Regions from separate parts of the Homo sapiens genome. Here region 1 is linked to region 2. The links come from fine-mapping of genetic effects on gene expression. A gene starts in region 2. The other region holds a variant in brackets. All regions are shown on one strand. Distances are from middle to middle.

What was found.
Region 1: its variant is fine-mapped to the expression of TMEM181 in thyroid (GTEx, PIP 0.97).

The regions. Positions count from the first base shown.
Region 1 is chr6:158,620,870-158,626,104 of GRCh38, reverse strand. It overlaps TMEM181 (transmembrane protein 181), which reads right to left. Exons shown (of 17, transcript NM_001376852.1): 11 at 2,498-2,555; 12 at 899-1,001; 13 at 351-402. Among named protein-coding and RNA genes, the nearest start is that of MIR7161, 14 kb to the right of the region's middle. The variant G/A (reference allele first, on the strand shown) is at 2,126.
Region 2 is chr6:158,557,045-158,562,529 of GRCh38, reverse strand. TMEM181 (transmembrane protein 181) reads right to left here and starts at 2,439. Exons shown (of 17, transcript NM_001376852.1): 1 at 2,298-2,439. The coding sequence starts at 2,305. RefSeq lists enhancers at 408-907, 908-1,409 and a silencer at 1,829-2,748.

The DNA.
Region 1 (5,235 bases), 64 kb before region 2:
TCCTGTCCCTGGGGCACCCCAAGGATCCCGAGGTCCCCAGTGCCCTTACTTCCAGCTGGTGACTGCACGCTGCACACATAGCAGGTGGCACAGCAAGGACAGAACATGCCCAGCGCGGGCCGAGTGTGCAAGTGAACGTGCTCCAGTCCTCGGCCGCTTACAACAAAAACATGCTCTCCAGGCTGACGGCTGCTCTCGGCTGCCCAGCCTTGGTGGGAGGCCCTCTAACCTCATGAGTCTACTGGGCTAGAAGTACCCTGAAATCCACTCCACAAAAGGAGGCAACAGATATTCCTGACAGTAAAAGAAAAATTCCGTTTTGCTGTTTTCAAGAAATAAGGTCTTCTTACCTAATGACAAGTACTACGAAAGTCAATGCAGTCAAAAATTTCAACCTGAGATCTGAAAAAGAAAGAAACTCATTAACAACTCTGGAAGTAAATTCCACTTGCATTTTATTTTGAAAAATAAAAAACAAAAATTAAGCAAAGCTCTTTGGACAAATGCTCCTCCCTCCAGACTTAGCCGGAGTCGCCAGCAGCCTAGGAGAACGTTGGTCCCTTCCCAGGGCCAGGATGGTGTCCAGGGAGGCCACAGCCACCATCCTCTGGTGGGGACAGATTCAGGAAAGGATCCCGCAAGCTCAGGGTGACTCGCCCTGCTCTGCAGGGTACAGTCCCGCAGGACCCAGGCCACTCTGATGGTCCCAAATGCCAGAGTAACCTGTAAGGCCTGTTGTGGCTCCCAGGGACCACGTGCCCTGGTCCCCAGCCTGTGGGAATGGACCAGTCCCTGGGCCCTCAAGGAAGGCCCCTGGCTTGGGAGACTCCAACCACTTCTTCCCCCACCTGAGTCACTCCCAAGCCACCCCTGCACCGATTCTGAAAGGAGCACTTACCCACATAAGGCATGTGACGTAGCTCGGAACACGCCCGCACTATCAAGAACAAGAGGTACAGAATGTACACCGCTGCCACCACCATGAAGAAGACCTTCATTCCCTAGGAGGACACAAGGCAGCACTTGAGTCGGAACAGGGCCTCTGTGACCTTCTCCTCCCAGCACCACCACAGGCAGGAAAGCCACAGGTTTTTAGAAGGGACTTCAACCCTGAAGGTCCCTCCAGGAAGCAGAACAATGGGCTCCCAGCCGGGACCATCTGCTCAGTCCCGCTGCGAGCACAGGCAGCTCCCCTGAGGTGGACGACACCCCAGGCCTTGCAAATCAGCGGAGCAGAGCCCAAACCCCTCCCACCAGGGACCTGTCCAGGCACAGTGGGTGCTCAGACTGCGGTGGCCACTATCTGTCTCTCTCGCCCCTGGGGGCGAGGGGCTGGCTCCCCACCCTGCCCCTGCATGTGGGAAGGTGGCAGGTGTCCAAGAAAGGACCCAGGCTAGGCCCTGGGAATCCACGCGCCGTCTTAACCATCAACCATTCCCGACCTCTGTTTTCTTATCTGTGACACGAGGGGCTTGAATTAAATGCCCTACAGGACCTAAGGTCTAAAAGTGCACAATTCTGTAATGTCACAGCAAGCCAAAGCCCTTTTCTGAAGATGGAGCTGTGATGGGGAGGGCAGGCCCGTGGGTTCTGACAAGGGCCAGGCCGCGGGGTGGACAGTGTCTTTAGACGCAGTCCCCGCTCCTCGATGGCTCCGGCCCACGCCATCCCCCCACCCCTTTCCTGTCCTCTCAGCGCCAGAGCTCCCCTCTTACAGTCAAGGCTCAGAGCACAGGACAGCACAGCAGGAATCGGGATCATTTTTCTCAAAAGCACCTAAGTGACTTTAGCTGGGACCTTACGTAAAGCAAAGGGACTGGACTAGACCAGCGTGTTTAGCACCGAGAAGGCTCTGCTCTCCGGTGTCTCCTTCAGCAACAGACGTGGGCCCTGGGGTCTGTTCCAGAGCCCACATGGCTGGTTCTCCCCGACACCTGACTGGGAAGGAAGAGCAGCCGACCAGAACCACAGTGACAGGGCCTCAAACTGCGTCAGCCACAAACCAAAGACTGGGAGTAAAAACATTGTTTTAAAGAGCTTTTCTGCCGGGTACAGTGGCTCACGCCTGTAATCCCAGCACTTTGGGAGGCCGAGATGGGTAGATCACTTGAGATCAGGAGTTTGA[G/A]AACAGTCTGGCCAATATGGTGAAACCCCCATCTCTACTAAAAATACAGAAATTACCCAGGTGTGGTGGCGCACGCCTATCGTCCCAGTTACTCAGAAGGCTGACGCAGGAGAACCACTTGAACCCAGGAGGCGGAGGCTGCAGTAAGCTGAGATTGCACCACTGCACTCCAGCCTGGGCGACAGAGCAAGACTCCAACTCAAAAAAAAAAAAAAAATTTCCCCAAATCTTCCACCCTTGAACTTTCTATGTAGTCCTTCCCAAGTAGTCAGTTAGCAAAAAGCTCAACAGAACAATTTAAGTCACAAAATTCAGTAATTTTACAAAACAGCATTAAGAAGAAAAATTGCAGGCCTCATTAACAATCCTTACCTGAAAATTTCCGGTATCAACTCGATACTGGTACATTGGATCATGTAATTCGTTAACTCTAAAAATTGACATTATAAATAATTATAGATTAATAACTACCTTTACTTTTTATTTTACATTTTTTCTTATTGACTTTTTGTTTTTTTTACTTATTAATATAAACTACTTCCTACCAACAGTGAAGGATTTTTACAAAGCAATCCTAAATTTATGAGAAATCCTGAATTTCATATTTCACATGAAAAAACTATACAATCCTACCAAGGGTCCACATTTATCAGTATTGGAAAGTTGCAGTATTTTTTATTACACAAAACCCTATATACTATTTCTCTTGCAGTTTTAAGAGCTGTTTTTCCAGTCACCTTTTTAATGGCACGTATGAGTACTAGGAAATAGACAAGAAAACAAAGAAAGCAATAAAAGCAAATAGAAACTTCCATGAGATTGATTTTCAAAATGAAAATGGGTGGCTGAGATGACAGGGAATTGGGGACAGGGGACTGGAGCAGACGGGGTGACTCACTTGGGTCACTGTGGCATGAAACTAGGCATGCTGGGCTCCGAAGTCACACCTGGAAACGGAGCTACTCCGTGAAAGTCCTATTCATGTGAACCAGGCTGCTACCACACTAGGCTTCTGCTGTGGGGCCATTTTACAGGACAAAAGCACTCATAAAGAGCAAGCGTGGGAGCGGGCATAGGGCTTGAAAGTGTGTGGACACAGCAGAGCATCGGTGGACAGTGGAAAGCCAGGAGCCACCCAAGATTCACTCCTACAACAAGGTCTCCCCTCTCTAAAGGAGAAATTGAAAAGGACATGGTCTTTTTCATCTTTCATCATAGACCAGTAGAATTGTGGATTCTCCACAACTCATTTAAGCAAAAACGAATGTGTCAGTTCAAGTCATACAGCTGTCCCTACTTACCCATGGTTTCACTTTCTGCAGTTTCAGTTAACTGAAATCAGCTGCAGTCAGAAAACGTTAAATGGGACATTCCAGAAAAAAGCATTCCCTAAGTTTTAAATTGCATGCCAATCTGATAGCACGATGACATCCTGCACCATCCCCCCAGGGATGTGTGCCACCCCTTTGTCCTGTGTACCCCGGCTGCAAACGTGGCTCGCCCGTCAGTCGGCCACATCATCTGCTCCTGACACACAACCACCGACACTGTCATGGCTGCGTGACCCTCCCGACATATCACAGGAAGCTCAGGAGCAGCCTAGCCCTATGTCACAATGCCTACACCATTCCCCTCACTTATCCCACACACAGGGACTGGGGCATCTCACATCATCATCATAAGAATACAGGATATTTTGAAAAAGAGAGAGCACGTCACACAACTTTTATTATAATATATTGTTATAGTTTTTCTATTTTATTGGTTATTATTAGCCTAACAAATAATCTTTATCATAGGTATGTATGTATAGAGAAAAACATACCAGAGGGCAGGCGCTGGGGAGGTCAGAGTGGTGTCATCTTGGGCAGAGGTCAGGCAGGGCAGAACAGTGTGGGCGGCCCAACGGGGCAGGCAGGGCGGGTGTCTGGGCCTCGGCAGCCAGGTGGGCTGTCCGGAGGCAGCCTTCAGGGGTGCGGCTGGCTCTGAGGGGCGCTTGGGCCCCTTCCAGCCCAGGGCAGGTGGGCGAGCTGCGGGAGCCCATGGGTCCAGCAGCCATGTGTGGACCTTAAAGCCCTTTGTGGTCTTCGGAAGCGCTTTGACAGCTCTGGACTTTGTATTGCAAAGTAATCAAAGTGCTCTGTAGCCCCTGAAGCAGTTAGGCATCTGTGAAGTGGCCTGCGCAGACAGAAGCGCTTGGTGATCTCAGAAGCACACTGAGCTTGGAAGCCAAACCAAAGCCTTTAGTAAATATCGGATCATTCTGACTTCTCCAAAGCACGCTGGCATCTCTGAAACTGTGAGAACTGTGATGGGCAGTGGGAGGAAGAGGGAAGGGGGTCCATGGTGCTGGATTGGCACAAGGTCAGGTACCACCAGAGCAGAATGTGGGAAGGTGTCCCAGCAAGCGCAGCTGCCTCCGGGAGTCCGGTGATGTGGCCCCCTCAGCTGGCCAGCTCAGAGCTCTGTGTTGGGTTCAGGACGGGCTGGTAGCCCCAAGCGCCTGAAAACCCAGGAAGAGGATGGTGTGGCTTGCTTCGCCGAGGTTATCCTGGGGCTCATCCTGCCGCAGAAGTAACTCCTCCTCCTTGACAGAGCAGGAGCACCTTCATCTTGGACAAACACTGCCACTTTCAGTGCCAGCTCCCTTTCTAACCTCCTGCATTTCAAGGAAATCACTTCTCGAGATTCTAACAAGCAGCAGCCAGAAAGAGCAGATAGTAAAACACAGATAACACAGCTGGGCACAGACAGAGAGGGGAAAGTCTCTTGGGTAAGCACCAAACTTCACACTCATACCATGTGCCCCAGTAGAACAGTGGGTCCTAATAAGCACATTCGTTTCCCTTTAGGTGCACCAAGATAGGAAAGCTAAAAGCAGACGTGGGGGCTATGCCTGCAGTTGCAGGAAGATGTATGGGGAACAGACACAAAACTCTCCCTTCCAGATAAGCAAGACAAAGAGACACACAGAAACATTTCGAGCCTGTGATAAGCTCTCCCACCCTGAACGCTTAAATACTCTTAGCCCGTAAGAGAGTGCCTCTGACCTAACTTGGCCAGAAGGCCCTCTCAGGTTTATTGTCCAAAATAAACCTATTTTTCACTGT
Region 2 (5,485 bases):
ATGAAAAAGACACATAAAATACACACTAAAAAATGGCTTCACGTGCCAAGCAAGACACACACACACACACACACACACACACAAAAACAGCCTTATTTAAATTTGCAGAGAAATGCTAAAGTAAGACCAAAGCAACATGTGAGCATGAGAGTCTCAACTCCGTGCAGCCCTGTAGCTCAAACAAGTCAGGTTAGCAAATGAGACGCCCCACACCGTCCTCAGACTCCTAGCACCTCTCCCGTCCCTAGCATCATCAGAGAAGGAATGGAGACTGCAGGAGAGTTCAAGGTAAAACTGTTAAGAACTGCTAACCTTTTTTGCTGATGAGTTTTGATGGCAATCTCTCCTACATTTTTAAAGAGCAGGCTGGGCCGAATGAGAGTCAGAGGTCATAAGGCCAGGGTCTGCAGGGGGACGGTCCCCTACACACCGTAAGCAGAGTGGTGGAGCTGCCCCTGCTCCTCCAAGCGGCTCTGTTCTCTCCCATTCTTTCCCTGGACTTCTCTTCTTTCTCACCTTTCTCACCTCTGGGCTCTCAGGCACACCAGACAAGGACAGAGAACACTCAGTCACCTAAGTCCAGGACGCACTTCGGATTTTCAGGCTTGTTTTTTAGGAGGATTTTATCTGCTACCAAACTCTTCTCAGTTTCCAGGTAGGTGCCTGGAATGCTGGCCGATGGTGGTGGGCTGATTTCCAGATACCCTCATCCCCCTCCGTCTTCCCTAACCCTCTTAGTGCTCCACAGAGCCTGAGGCACAAAGCGCTTACAGCTGCAGGGGGAGGCCTCAAACTCGCACAAAATTCAAGCTGCGTTTTGCTTGTCCTCCTCGGGACCTTTCCTTGGTCAACTGCTTTCTTTGGTCTAGTTCCCTGTCCTGTAACAGCGCAGGACCCTGGCAGAAGACCCAGATCCCTGTCCTGGCCAAGGCCCTCACCACCTCACGTCCCCGGCCTCTCTCCTACTGAAAAAGCACACCCAGCCCACCTATGCAGCTCCAAGGGGCAGCGCGTGAGAGAACTCCTGTAACACGCAGCTGTCACTCTGCTACAAGGCCACAGTTCCACAAGACACCGTTCCAAGCAGTATTATTTACATAGGCCGCACAAGAATCTTGCCCTCTGGAGTTGTGCAGAGGCAATACTGCTAACCTACCTCCACTTGGCTTTTAAAATCTTTAAAACATCCACATAGGTCTGATATTTGATGCCATTCCAGTTTCCCAAGAGGTGCTAAAGCAACATACCAAAGTCAGAAACTTCTAAGGAAGCAGAAGGAAAAACAGATCTCTCTGTCACAGGCACTTGCGCTGAGGCAACAGGCCTGGGTGTCACTTCTCTGACCACGTCCACAGCCAGAGAAATCAGCAAAGATCCAAAGCAAAACCCTTCTGCCTCAAAAACCGCATATAAGCCAAGAAGCGCGCCCAGGCCCCTCGGAGGCTGCCTTCAGTGCAGGGAGCCGGCCCTGGAAGCCTCCTGCGCCAGGCGCGGCTGCACATATGGGCCACTCCTTCTCCCGGACTTTCTGCAACTCCACGCGGCGCTAACCCTCTGGTTAACTCCGTCTCCTTCTTTTCCAGATGCGCCCAGGGGGACACCTAGGCGACTGCTGGGTCAAAAGCAAGCTTTAGGGATGGCGTCCACGAGACCCCAAACAGGTTTTTCCTCATTAAAAACCCTGGACTTCAAAGAGGTAAAGAAAAAAAAAAAAGCCCAAAGTCAGCAGATCGTAAAACGCATAAAACTCATATAACTCGACACCCCGAGTCCAAAGGGGCTGTTGCGGCAGGCTCCCCGGTGCCCACGTCACCAATCGCCTCTGAGAGCCTCGCACCCGGCGCTGGGCGAGACCGCAGGGCAGCGCGGGGCGCTCTCGATACCGAGGGGACGACGGGGCGGGGCCTTTCCGGCAGGAGAGGCTGCCCGGGAGGCGGCGGGACTCCGTGCGGGCGGCCACCCTACGCCGGGGAAGGGCCGCAGCGCCCCCGGTTCTCTCGGCCCCCCGGTGAGCGCTGTGGCTCGCAGCCCCGTCCCGGAACCCCGACCGCATCCCGGTCTCTAACCGCGGCCGGGCGGGCAGGCAGGAGGGAGCCCCGGCCCCGGTCTACTCTCGCCCCGCGCAAACACCTCCGCCTGACCCGCCCGCGAAGCCCCCTTCAGCGCCCTTTTCCCTGCCCCCAGTTCCACGTGGGCGCCAGGGACCCTGCGGCACGGCGCCGGGAGCCAGGGATCCCCAACTTTCGGCCGGAGTGTCCGGAGAGCCAGCCAGCCCGCCCGCTCGGCCGGGGACTCACGGCTCCATCTCGGCGCCCAGAGCCCTCGGCCCCGGCCCGCGCGTCCCGAGCCCGCCAGGCGCCGCGCAGCAGCCTCGGCAGCGGCAGCCGCAGCCGGAGCCGGAGCGACAGCGGCTGAGCAGCGGCCGGCCGCGGAAAACTCATCAGAGCGCGACGCCGAGATCACGTGCGCGGAAGCGACTCTCACGGCGGAAGAGGGCGCGGCGCGGTGGAAGCGGGGCCGCGGGCGCGCGGCGAGGGGGGTGGCCCTCCTTCGTGGCCCCGTGCCGGGGCGGAGCCCCACGGCCGGGAGCACCCAGGCTAGCCCTGAGCTGGGGCTCAAGACAGAAGGAATGAGTGAATGAATGACTTAGTTTACCTCTTGTCCCTAGGGCAGGTAAACAGCGCATTCATTCACTCCTACTTCCCGAGTGTCGGGGCGTAAGGATGGGCCTCGGGAGTCCACGAATGCCCTGCAGTTGTCTGGAAAACACTATGGGTGTCTGCATTTTTCTAGGGAGAGGAGCTATAGCTGTATATTCATTCCCTAAGGGTCTTGTGACCCCAAAAAAGGTTAAAAGCCAGGACAAACTTCTGCCACCCCGAATGATGACAGGAACCTTCCGGGCTCTTTCTGGTAGCTTCTCCCGCAAGCCGCTTCTAGACTGCAGCTAGACCAGTGGACCAAAAGCACTTTCCTGATTTCGCATCTTGGCTCAGTGTTCCCCATTTCTGTAATCAAGAATGGATGAGAACCAAGGTTTGGCTATTTCTGAGATTCTCTTTGGAGCATTACTCAAAATGTCCCGTGTTCCCGTGTGCTGTGGGTTTAAAGTCGGTCTGCATGAGTTAAATAAAGGACTTCCAAGCTTCCTTTGCAATGTATCCTCATTCATTCACTAAACTGTAAACAGGCTTACTATTGGCAGAAAAGTGTGGACATGAATAAGGAACAGTTCCTGCCCTCAGTGAAATTACAGGCAAAGAAAATTACCAACAGTAAGTTAGGTAGCCTTAGCTCAGGGTGCTACAGTGAGGAAGGGTGCCTAACTCGCCTTGGGGGAGTGGAGAAGGTAGGGGACAGAATGCAGAGTTTGGGCTGAATCTGGAGGGTGAGGTGGATATTAGGAAGAGGGGGGTTAAAAGGGGGAGATACCAAGCAAAGCACACCCTAAGCCAGGACACCAAGGAATAGTTACACAAAATCTCATTAGTGCTCTGAATCCTAAACCGCAACTCTTCAAGGAATAACAAAAGATTATTTCTTAAGTTCTTTTCATACATAAGCAGAGGGAAAGGGTTCTTCATAGCAACAAGACCGGAGAACAGAAACTGGGTACCTGCAGGGACAGACTGTTCACAGGGACGTGGGGCGCGGGAAGGGGTGAGTCGGAGGGAGTTCTATGAGCTAGAGCAGGGGTCCCCAACCCCGGAGCCTGTTAAATTACAGACGTGAGCCACCGCAACCAGCCCAAACATGCGTTTTCATGCAACACCTTCTGTTAAATGTTTAGGCCTGAGGATGCCTCCCTACTTGAGTCCTTACATAAGGAGCTGCAGCCTGGCATAGTTAACATAAAAGAGAAGACACCCTAATTGAGGAGGATGCTTTTGTAACAAACAGCTGAGTCTCAGCCAATCACAGCCAGTGAGCTTCTGTCATTGGCAGGTGGTTAGCTGATTCAAATAAGCTAGAACATAAACCTGTAACCAGTTAAGCTGTCTCTGCGCCTCAGTTCCACTTTCTGTCCATAAATGTTGTCTAACCACGTTGCAGCCCCAAAGTCCTTTGAACCTGTTGGTTCTGAGGGCTGCCCGATTCTAGAATCATGAAGAAAAGCTACTTAGGATCTTTAAATTTGCTGTCATTTTGTCTTTCGACACTTCTGATTCTAAAATGTTGGAAACTAATTCGAAAAAATATCTTAAACCCTGGGAGGGACTAAACAAAGCACATTTGCTGGCCACATTTGCCTAGAGGCAGCCAGTATCTACCTCCAGCCCAGAGCAGCATGAGATGATGTGGAAATCCCTGCTCTGTGCCAGCTGCCTGGTCTCTCCTGAGGCATCTCCAGCGAGAGGAAACTGTCACCACCCCGAGGACCCCTGGCCCTCACTGTGTGCATTTGACTCCAAACTACCTCCTGGCAATTCCTTCCTGTCAGATCTCCCTGGATTTGCTGTCCAGCGTCACCCAGGTCAGCATGAGCCCTCTCCCAACACTCCTTCAAGGATGTGAACAACCACATGGCCCTCAGCTCCTCTTCTCCCGTCATACTCGTTTTCTCATTTATTTGTTCTTCAAACATTAATGGAGCAGTGTGTGTGTGCCAGGAACAACTCTCAGCTCTGGAAACACAACACGAATAGACAGATGAGGTCCCTGTCCTTTTCTAGTCAAGAACAAACAATAACCTAAATAATTACTTAATTGACCGGGCATGGGCATGGTGGCTCACGCCTATAATCCCAGCACTTTGGGAAGGTGAGGCGGGGATCACCTGAGCTCAGGAGTTCAAGACCATCTTGGCCAATATGGCGAAATCCATCTCTACTAAAAATACAAAAATTAGCTGGGCGTGATGGCGGGTGCCTGTAATCCCAGGTACTTGGGAGGCTGAAGCAGGAGAATTGCTTAAACCCAGGGGGTGGAGCTTGCAGTGAGCCAAGATCACGCCACTGCACTCCAGCCTGAGCAACAGAGCAAGACTCTGTCTCAAATAAATAAATAAATAAATAAATAAATAATTACAGCTGTGATAGAAAAGGAAATGAAAGGTGCTATGATCATGTTATGAAAAGGGGAAAGGGACCCAAACTATTCTGGGCTCTAAGAAGCCTGGTGTGATCTATCAGCCATTTCTCACATGACCTGTTTGTTTTTGAGACAGAGTCTCCCTGTCACCCAGGCTAGAATGCAGTGGCGCAATCTCGGCTCACTGCAGCCTCTGCCTCCCACTCAAAAGATCCTCCGGCCTCAGTCTCCCATGTAGCTGAGACTACAGGTGTGCACTAACACAACCAGCTAATTTTGTATTTTTTGTAGAGACAAGGTTTCACTATGTTGTCCAGGCTGGTCTTGAACTCCTGGGCTCAAGCAGTCTGCCTGCCTCAGCCTCCCAAAGTGCTGGGATCCTAGGAGGTGCACCGCCTTTGGAGATAAGCTACTGTGAAAGTTGTCAGAATTAAAATGGAGTCACTTGTATTAA